Regions from separate parts of the Homo sapiens genome. Here region 2 is linked to region 1. Evidence: fine-mapped expression QTL. A gene starts in region 1. The other region holds a variant in brackets. All regions are shown on one strand. Distances are from middle to middle.

Region 1 (5,376 bases):
CGCCCCCCTCCAACCCACACAAAAAATCTAGTTTAAGGCTAGTTGGAGATTTTTTTTTCTTATACAATTCAGCCAGTTCTAGCTAAAGTGTAAGCAATTGAAAATTTAATCCTAAACTCATGTGAAACAGAAAAAAAAAAGATGCTGAAACTGTAGAGGTTTCATTTGTTTATTTGTTTATAAGTTACACTGCCATTAGAAACTGCTTTACCCAAAATATTTCCCCCAGCCTTCATTATATTACCTATAGGGGCAAATAAAGTTTATCCATGTTAACGATTCCAATTTGTCAGAAATACAATTGGATCCAGTTGACTTTAATCAACTAGTGAGTTTGTATTACTATCTCATCACTAAAATTCTAAAATGAAAGCTGTAAGATTTTTATTTGTTTGTGGATATGTGTTTAGGTGTGTTTTTGCATATGTACATGTATTATGGTCTATATTGTGTCTACATGACAAAATCCACCTTAGTTGGCCAGAAACGCCTTAATAAACTCTATTTGCATTTCCTTAGAGAAATGAGCATAAGAACATGGCTTTTACCCTAGTAGCATCGGGAGGGAATTCAGGGTCTTTCTAACAGTGAGGGGCAAACCCAATTCATTCCCTGACATCATTCACTGACATTCCCTCCAGGCTCTAACATATGTCTTTCTCACAAACACACCAAAACTGACACAAACTCCGGATATTCGATCCCAGGTGGATCTTCCACCAGGGCAGAATGACCACAAGAAAGTCAGGGAGTGATTCCCCAGCCTCGAGATCCCCAGTATTTGGGACATCTGCCTATGGTCCCTGCAGACATTTCACCAGGGGATCCAGGGGAACTTCTCCTGCAGGAGGGGACAGGATAACCCAGGATCTGCCTTTGTTTCCATCTCAGAGGGACTGAGGGTCACGGGGCCTCCCCTGCTCTAATACAGGAACCAGGTATCCCTTGCAGCCTGCAGGTAGGAGCTGCCCCAGCTCCTGGGCCCTGTGGAGAGGCCTGGGGCAGGTGACAGACAGGGACACAGATGACCTGGAGGCGGAACTCCCAGTGTTGTGATGGAGGAACACAGAACACACCGAGGACCACCTCCCAGGCCAGTGCCCTCTCTCTAAACCCCCAGAGACACCTCCCTGGGCCCTTCTTTTGAAACCTTGGGGACGGATGGCTCTTTCTGAGGCAGCCCATCCGCCTGCAGGACAGTTCTCCCAAATCAGGACCAGGAGTGCTCTGGACAACTCTCGTCCTCTCCCTGAGCTCATCCTGCACTGCATGGAGTTGGACATCCTGGGGACCCACAGTGAACAGGACCAAGGATGACCTGACCCTGCAGTCTGGAGGTCAGAGCCCACCTCTGCCCAGGGGCCAGGGCCAACTCATACCACGTGGACCCTGGTCAGCATCCCTGGGGAAGCCCCTGACTTTTACCACAGGGTTCCTCTTGCTCTCCAGGGGCAACATTGCACGCAGACAACACAGGAAATGGATTCCCCTGGACAGGAATCTGGCTTTGCTAAGGAGGTGGAGGTGAAGCCTGGTTTCCATACTTTGCTCCAGCAGGCCCTTCCAGTCCCTCCCATGTGCCTGCTCTGTCTCTCCTGATCCTTCCTGGAGCCTCTGAGGATCCTGCTCTGCCAGGATTCTCTGCTCAGTTCTCCACTTTCTCCTGGTATCATGCATGGGGAAGGTACAGTGACAACAGGACAATCACCTTCACAGAGGACAGAGGCCACCCGGGATGGTAAGGGAGAACATGCACAGGCCCTAAGCCACAGCTCAGCCAACAGAAACGGAGAGGGAGGATCTCCCTGAATCCCTCCTCAAGGACAGCAGAACCCAGAGCCACCCACCTCCCTCCACCACAGTCCTCTCTTCCCAGGACATGCAGGACACCTCCCTCCACATCCAGGAGCTGGGGATCCTCCTGAGACCCCCAGGCCTGGATCTCTGTCCCTGGGTCAGAGGCAAGGCTGGTGACACTGGAGAGAGAGGACTGGTCCCCCCCGTAGTCGCCCCCCATTTTCTATCCCACAGAGCCACCTCTGTCACCTTCCTGCTGGGTATCATCTCACACTCCCTGAGTATTGGGGAGCATGAGGAGACCTGGGGGCCCAGCTGGGTCTCTGTGTCACAAAAGGAAACAGTTCCCCAAGTTTGGGAGACCCCAGAGTACCTCTGTTTGTGGTGACATTCCCAAAGGGTCAGTGCAGGGGTGACAAGTCACCCTCTCTGGGGACAGGGGACTCCACCAACCCTGCTTCTCAAAGTGTGGTTAGGAAACTGTAATGTACACAGAAGAGAAAGGGGAAGGAGGGACAAAAAAGGCAGAAATGAGAGGGGAGGGGCAGAGGGGTGACCTGGGAAGAGCCCCGCCTCTGCCCCTGGCCCTGGGAAGTGCTTCTGCCCGGGAGGAGGCTCAGCACAGAAGGAGGAAGGTCAGCAGCCCCGACAGCCGACAGTCACAGCAGCTCTGACAAGAGCGTTCCTGGAGCCCAGCTCCTCTCCACAGAGGACAAGCAGGCAGCAGAGACCATGGGCCCCCCCTCAGCCGCTCCCCGTGGAGGGCACAGGCCCTGGCAGGGGCTCCTGATCACAGGTGAGGGGAGGACTCTCTGGGAGTGGTGGGAAGAGGGAGCACAGAGACTGACTGGGGTCTCTTGGGTAGGAGGGGATAGAGGGCTTCTGGCTGGGGTCTCCTGGGGCTCTGAGAGGGGACTGAGGGCCTCTGTTGGAGGCTGGATAAGGGAGAGAACATCAGAGAGGGGCAGGGGTCACAACAGGAAAATCTCAGTGAACTGGAATTGGTAAAAGGCAGGAAAATCTCAAGTGTTCTCTCGTCCTGGTTAATCATCACTGGCCACTACATTTTGAAAAATGATAATAACTATACCAGATGACACTTCAAATAAAAACATAACCAGGGCATAAAACACTGCTCTTAGCCAACAACCTCAGACACTGGGAAATAAACCTCAGGACTTGGAGGCCCTGAGAATGCTCATGAACTCATCTACAGGAGTCTGCAGCCTGTGCCAGGCACTGGGGTGCAACCAAGATCACACAAGTCCCCGCCCTCACAGAGCTCACGCTCTCATGGGGAGGAAGACAAACACCTAAAGAGATCTAGAATGTGAGGTCAGGTGCTGACAAGAGCCCTGGAGGGAACAGAGCTGGGAAAGGTCAGAAAGGGAAGACCCAGGGTCTCTAGAGGAGGTGTCAGGGGAGGGGTCTCCCAAAAACACCCTGATGTGAGCAGGATCTGAGGGCAGTGGGGAGGGAGCCGTGCAGACCCCTGGGGAAGAAGATTCCACCAGGGAAATGCCAAGGTCCAAGCTGTTGAAGGAATGGGGGTCATGCTGCTGACCCAGGGACACACACACACACACACACACACACACACACACACACACACACACACACACACACACACACTCCAAGGCTGAGGGATGAGGAGACCTGCTGAGGACCCAGGGCCTTATCTTTCCATCCCACTCCATAGGTCCCAGTATTGACTGATGCTGTCTTCACCTCCTAGCCTCACTTTTAACCTTCTGGCACCCGCCCACCACTGTCCAGTTCACTATTGAAGCCCTGCCGTCCAGTGCTGCAGAGGGAAAGGATGTTCTTCTACTGGCCTGCAATATTTCAGAAACTATTCAAGCCTATTATTGGCACAAGGGGAAAACGGCAGAAGGGAGCCCTCTCATTGCTGGTTATATAACAGACATTCAAGCAAATATCCCAGGGGCCGCATACAGTGGTCGAGAGACAGTATACCCCAATGGATCCCTGCTGTTCCAAAACATCACCCTGGAGGACGCAGGATCCTACACCCTACGAACCATAAATGCCAGTTACGACTCTGACCAAGCAACTGGCCAGCTCCACGTACACCGTGAGTGATTCCCCCATACCTCTGGGTGCTGGCGGTCAGTTCTGCTTCACACACATGAGATTGTCAGGCCTGGGCTGTGCCTGCATCCCCCTCTGCATTTTGTCCCGTGTTGAGATTTGGGCATTTAGTGCAGGACACACACATGGTAGGTAAACTTCAACAGATCAGAATTCCTTTCCTGCATCCAGGCCCTGCAGACACTGATGGCGGGGGCGGGGGGGCCTCAGCAGGGGGAGGTCAGTCTCAGCCAAGCACCCCATGCCCTCCCCATGAACCTGACCCTGAGAAAGACCCTGGAGAACTGGGTCAGGGCCTGGCCTGAGGGCGTCCTGGGAACCTCACAAAAGCCCAGCCTCAGGACTCCTGACTCCGTGTGACCCCGGGAAGCCTGTGTCAGGGCTGGGGTGTGGTCTCCTGGGCAGGGCTTACTGGGAGCAAGGATTTACCAGATGTCTGCGGGCTGTGGTTCCTGAAGCTTCTCATCAGTGAGGGCTCAGCTCCCAGAGTCTCATCTAGACAAGGACAGAGCCTACCACTTTCCCTGGGACTCAGCCTGGAGAGGGCAGGGGGACAGGATTACTAGGGCATTGGCCCCCTGAATGAGGAGCTTAAGAGATGCCCTTGGGCAGTCAGTGGCCCAGGGGTAGGAACAGAGGGGAGAAAATGTTCCTGGCAGCTTCTTGTCCACCGGGGATCATGCCCAGGGGTGCTCTCCCATGGAGGCAAATAACAGATGCTGTTGATGTGAACACCTCCTCTGTGCCAAGCTTCATGTCAGATCCTGTGAATAATTTAAAGTTCATTCACAGACAAAGTGGCAAGCCTCAGACCATTTTCCATTTACATATTGTATGGAGGGGAAACTGAGGCACAGAGAGATACAGACACCGGCCACGGTGGGCAGATCGCAGCTGGCAGAGTCACATGAGGGCTGTCTGCAGCTGCTGCCACGTCCTCTCCTTCATCCCTGGTGCCTTACTAGGTGTCTGTGGACCTCAGAACAGCCACTGGTTCGGATGTTTTCTTCTTAGGTGTCTACAGCTCGGAGGGGGAGATTCTGGTCTGGAGAGTTATGAGTAAATACAGAATTAATCAGTTTTTTCTTAACTAAATCACCTGCCTCAACAATCAGTCAGTGCTGGGGAAGTTCAGGCCTCCTCGCTCAGGTCCACACCCCGCATCTCTGGACATGAAATGGTTTCGTGTGTTTTCTGATGTGTGGGTATCATTCCAACAGGAGGATAAAGGGGAGGACTTTGCTTTCTCTCCCCATTCACACCCTGCACCAGCCAGGGCCCAGTGTGAGACACATACTCCGTAGTTCTCTCATGAAGGAGGGAGGGAATGAATGAAGGAATGATCTATAACCTCTTCAGAGACAGAGACCTGGATACAAGATCCTAGGAGGTTCTGGGCCCAACGTGAGACACACACTCTGTAGTTCTCTTATGAAGGAGGGAGGGATTGAATGTAGGAATGATCTA
Region 2 (5,376 bases), 26 kb after region 1:
CATAAGATACCAAATTATAAACTCAACCTAAGGTCATGCAGGCAAGGGCTAAGCCACACTTTCCTACATTTAAAGAATAAGCTATGTTCTAACACAGAATTTTCTTTCTCTCTAGCGGCTAAAGTAACACTAGCCTTCGAGATAAGCAATATTGAAATGATCGCGGCTCATCCACCAACACTGGCTAACTGACCCCTGTTCCAACAGCCACAACTACACTTCAATTGGACAGGAGACTGATTTCAGTAACTTTCTCCTAATAAGAGACCACTGAGCATGGCCTGGTTCTGCTGGTATACAGACACGGTGCACTGAGTACCATAATGCTTGTTTCATCTTTTGATGTATAAGACCTAACTTAATACATTTAAATCTGAATTCTCCACCCCAAAGTGAACATGGGGTGCATGTAGCATGCATGTTTGTTGATCACGCATGTGCGTGTACTTCCTTTGTGAGTATCCATAGCTCCACCTATAACCTGTTGAATATGTATACCTGGCCAACTCATTCAGCATAAATCTATCTTCCACATTCCCCTCCCTTGAAGTGCCTGCTATTGGTCTCTGCTGGAGGCTGCATCTTCTACCCTGGGGAATGGCCAGCCTGCAGGCTGTAACCCTGTGTAAGAAATAACCTGGTTGGGTGCAGTGGCTCACACCTGTAATCCCAGTGGTTTGGGAGGTTGAAGTGGTAGAATAGTTTGAGCTCAGGAGCCAGAGACTAGCCTGGGCAGCATAGCAAGATCCTGTCTCTTAAAAAAATTTTAGGGAGGAGAGTGAGGATCAGAAAAAATACCTATTGGCTATTATGCTTAGTACTTGGATCATGAAATAATCTGTATACCAAACCCCTGATTACATATATAACAAACCTGCATGCGTATCTTTGAACCTAAGATAAAAGTTTGTTTTAAAAACTATCTGGGTGCAGTGGTGCATGCCTATAGTTCCAGCTACTCGAGACTGAGGTGTGAGGAGTGCTTGAGCTCGGGGGATTGAGGCTGCAGTGAATTATGGTCCCACCTGTGAGTAGCCACTTCACTCAAACCTGGGAGACAGAGCAAGAACCGGTCTCTAAAAAAAAATAAAAATAGAAAAATAAAATGAAAAATATATGAAATAAAGTCTCCTTTCCAAACGTACAGATCTCCGATTTTTCTGCCAACAATGATAAATGGTCAGTGGCTTGCCATGTTGTCTGTGAATTACTTTTAAAATATTCACGATCACCTGACCTAAAGGTTGGTACCAAGGAACCGCCTGAATACACCGTCTCTGATTATTTGCCTCCAACAGAGTGTTCCCTGGGCCTGATCTCTGGTGGACAATGAGCTGCTGGGAACATCCTCTCTTCTCTATTCCTCCCCTGGGGATGCTGACCTTCCCTTGGAGTCTCCTAAGTTCCCCAGGGCAGTCGGCTAATGTCCTAGGGAGCTTACCTGTCTTCTCCATACCAAGTCTCATGTGAAGGACGAGGCTTTGCCCTTGCCCAGATGAGGCTCTGGGGGCTGAGCCCTGGCTGGCTACCAGCTGCAAGAGCCATGGCCCTTGGACAGCTGGTAAATCCTTGTTCCCAGTCAGCCCTGCCCAAGATGCCTCAACCCAGCCCCGGCACAGGCTTCCCAGGGTCACATGGAGTCAGGATCCTGGGACAGGGGACTGGACAGGGGTTTCCAGGGCTGAGTTTCTGAACAGGGGCTTCCCAGGGGTCCCCTCACTCCAGGATCTGACATGGTCCTACAAGGAACGTCCATGGGGAGGGGACCCAGGAGGGGGAACTGACACTGACCTCCCCTTACTGAGCCTCCCCCCAACCCCATCAGACTGTCCTTCCTCTGTAGCAAGTGCCTGCAGGGTCTGGATGCAGGAAAGAAATTCTGATCTGTGGAAGTTTGTCTCCCCTGTGTGTGTCTTGCACTAAATGTCCAAACCCCCAAATGGGATGTAATGTAGAGGGGGACACAGGCACAGCCCAGGCCTGAAAATCCTGTGTGTGTGAAGCAGAACTGACCCCCAACACCCAGAGCTCATGAGACATCACTGTGTACGTGAAACTGGCCAGTTACTTCTTCATTCACAAGATCTGTTTTTATGACTTGTAGGGTGTAGGATCCTGTGTCATTGTTGGTGACATTCTG[T/G]ATCAGCAGACATGTATTGGGGTATATTGTCTCTCAGCCTCTGTGGCAGGTCCTGGGGTAATTACTTGAGTTCCTAGTACATATCCTGTAATTCCCCTTTGTACCAGTTGTAGCCAAGCCTAAGGCAGATTGTGGGTGAGTGGAAGAATCTCCTTGCCTTCTGCAGCTTCAACAGTGACTTGGGCAGTGGTAGGCAAGTTCCAGAAAGTTAAAAGTGAGGCTAGGAGTGGGGAGAGAGCATCAGTTAATACTGGGCCCTATGCATTGAGGTGGAAAGATGGGGCCCTAGGTCCTGGACAGGTCTCTTCATCCCTCAGCCTTGGAGTGTGTGTGTGTGTGTGTGTGTGTGTGTGTGTGTGTGTGTGCGCGCGCGCGCGCGCGTGCGTGTCCTACTGGGCCAAGGTCAGCAGCATGACCTCCCTTCCTTCAGTGCCTCTGACCTTGGCATTTCCCTGTTTGGAGTCCTTTTCCCCAGGGGTCTGCCTGGCTCCCTCCCTACTGCCTTCAGGTCCTGCTCACATTAGGGCATCCTTGGGAGACCCCTTCCCTGACACCTCTAGAGACCCTGGGTCTTCCCTTTCTGACATTTCGCTGCTGTGTTCCCTCCAGGGCTCTTGTCAATACTTGACCTCACATTCTAGATACCCTTGCATGTCTGTCTTCCTCCCTATGAGAGCATGAGCTCTGTGAGAACAGGGACTTGTGTGATCTTGGTTGCACCCCAGTGCCTGGGACAGGCTGCGGACTCCTGTGGATGAGCTCATGAGTGTTCCCAGGGCCCTTCACAACGTGGGATTTATTTTCCAATGGCTGAGGTTGTTGGCTAAGAGCTCTGTTGGAGTTCAATCAGGCTGGTGGGAAAAATATTAGAGATAGTTATAGAGATAGACACAAATCTTCTTGGAAGACCAAAAACTTTGCATAACTTTGGTAATAGATCTGACTGAAGGTGGTCCCTTTACCTTTAGTTAAACAAATTAAAGTAGTAACAAAGGAAGGCAGAGTAGTTTGTCTAGCCAGCTTGTTTACTCATGTGATCTTAAGACTAACCATTGATGTGCCACAGGTGCTTAATTGCTTTCTACTTGGGAAGTCCACAATGTCAATTACCCTCTAACGGTGTTGACTCAAGCCTTTGTTAATTAATCTTACTGAATAAATATGAGTCTCACTAGCTGATCAAGGCCATGGTCACAACTGTTTATAGGACTCAGCAGGGAGTCTGTAAGCGGCCCTGACAGACTCAGCTGGACTGGCAAAGCAAAATATGTGTGTGTCAGTGTACACTATTCACCCGTCCCCCACAGCTGGTGCCCCTATATGAGGAGTGCTGCCACAGAGCTCTGTTTAGTGTCCCTTGTTTTTTTTCTTGAGTATTACCCCAACTTAAATTGTGATTATTGTCATCTGTTTTCAACATTAACTGCTCAGTGATGATTCACTTGGAAAACATTAACAATCGAGATTGTTTCTTCACTAACAACCTCAGATTATTTAGATTTTCCTGTTGTAATCCCTTCTTCCTGTTTAGTGTCCAACAGAAGCCCTCTGTCCCTCTCAGGTCCCCGTTCTCTCCAAGAAACCCCAGCCAGTCTCTGTGCTCCCTCCTCCCATCCACTCCCAGGGAGCCCTCCCCTCACCTGTGAGCAGAAGCGCCTGCCAGGGATGTGCACTCTGTGAGGAGGGGCTGAGGGAGGCCCCATGGGCTCTGCTGTCTGCTTTGTCCTCCTCTGTGGAGAGGAGCTTGGGCTTCAGAAAATAAGGAGGCCAGAAAGTAAGGAACAGGCTGAGAAATAATGGGGATGTGTCGAAAGGTCACAGATGCCAACATCTTTGTCCTATGCAATATTATCCATAAAATTACAGGTTTGAGATATGCTTAAATTTTCTTCTAACATGCATTAAAATAAACATATAACTTTTAATAGTTATATTAAATTGTATTTAATATAAATTAAATGCTCTTGTCAGAGCTACTGTGACTGTCAGCTCTGCTGTCCTTCCTCTCTCTGTGCTAAGCCTCCTCCCAGGGCAGAAGCACTTCCCAGGGCCAGGGGTGGGGGCGGGGAAAGGTAAGTGGCAATGAGGATCTGCACAGGTAGCCTTTCCGCCTCCTCCCCTCTCAGTCCTGCCTCCTTGTCTTCTTTTCCTCTTTTTCTCCAATCTACATTTCAGTTCCTTAGACCACGCTGTGAGAAGCAAGGCTTATTGGGACCCCCATCCCTTAACAGGATGACCTGTGCTCCCCATAAGTGACCTCTGCTGTGTCTAGGGATTGGCTCTGTCAGCACCTCACAGAGAGTCCCTGGGACCCCCAAACTCAGTGTTATTTTCTCTATGACACAGAAACCCCTCTGGGTATGCAAGGTTTTCCTCATGTTTTCTAATGTCTGGGAAGGTTGGATTTACTCCCAGCAGGGAGGTCACAGAGATGTCCAGGGAGTGGGGTCCTAGAAATGGACAAATCTAGAGCTAAAGCCCAGGTCTACGATTTTCAGTTGTTTTTTTCTGCAGTGCTATGTGACCCTAATTTCCTAGGAGTAACTAAAATGCAAACCTCAGACATTTGTAGACATTTTATGATTTTTCTCTACAGCTTGTACCACTGTTATTATTATTTGCTTTATGCTTTTTCCTAAATAAATTTACTTTACAAAACATCCTTGTCCTAGTAGGGTGCAGGGGCTCACGTCTGTGATCTCAGCTGCTTGAGAGGTTGAGGTGGGTGGATTGCTTGAGGACGGGAATTTGAGACAAAACATCTTTGTCCTATGCAATATTATCCATAAAATTACAGGTTTGAGATATGCTTAAATTTTCTTCTAACATGTATTAAAATAAACATATAACTTTTAATCATCATATTAAATTGTATTTAATATAAATTTATATACAATACATTTTTATATAATAAATTATATATATAAATGTATATATAATAGTTTTTCTTTTTTGAGATGGAGTCTGGCTCTGTCTCCCAGGCTGGAGTGCAGTGGCACGATCTCAGCTCACTGCAGCCTCCGCCTTCTGGGTTCAAACGATTCTCCTACCTCAGCCTCCCGAGTAGCTGGGATTACAGGCGCCTGCCGCCACGCCCAGCTAATTTTTGTACTTTTTTAGTAGAGATGGGGTTTCGCCATGTTGGCCAGGCTGGTCTCAAACACCTGACTTCAGGTGATATGCTGCCTCGGCCTCCCAAAGTGCTGGGATTACAGGCATGAGCCACCATGCCTGGC

What was found.
Region 2: its variant is fine-mapped to the expression of CEACAM4 in whole blood (INTERVAL, PIP above 0.99).

What each region holds. Positions count from the first base shown.
Region 1 is chr19:41,624,117-41,629,492 of GRCh38, reverse strand. CEACAM4 (CEA cell adhesion molecule 4) reads left to right here and starts at 2,419. Exons shown (of 7, transcript NM_001817.4): 1 at 2,419-2,593; 2 at 3,533-3,892. The coding sequence starts at 2,530.
Region 2 is chr19:41,598,202-41,603,577 of GRCh38, reverse strand. LOC105372404 (a long non-coding RNA gene) reads right to left here and starts at 2,521. Exons shown (of 3, transcript XR_935971.3): 1 at 1,026-2,521. It also overlaps the pseudogene CEACAMP3. The variant T/G (reference allele first, on the strand shown) is at 2,141.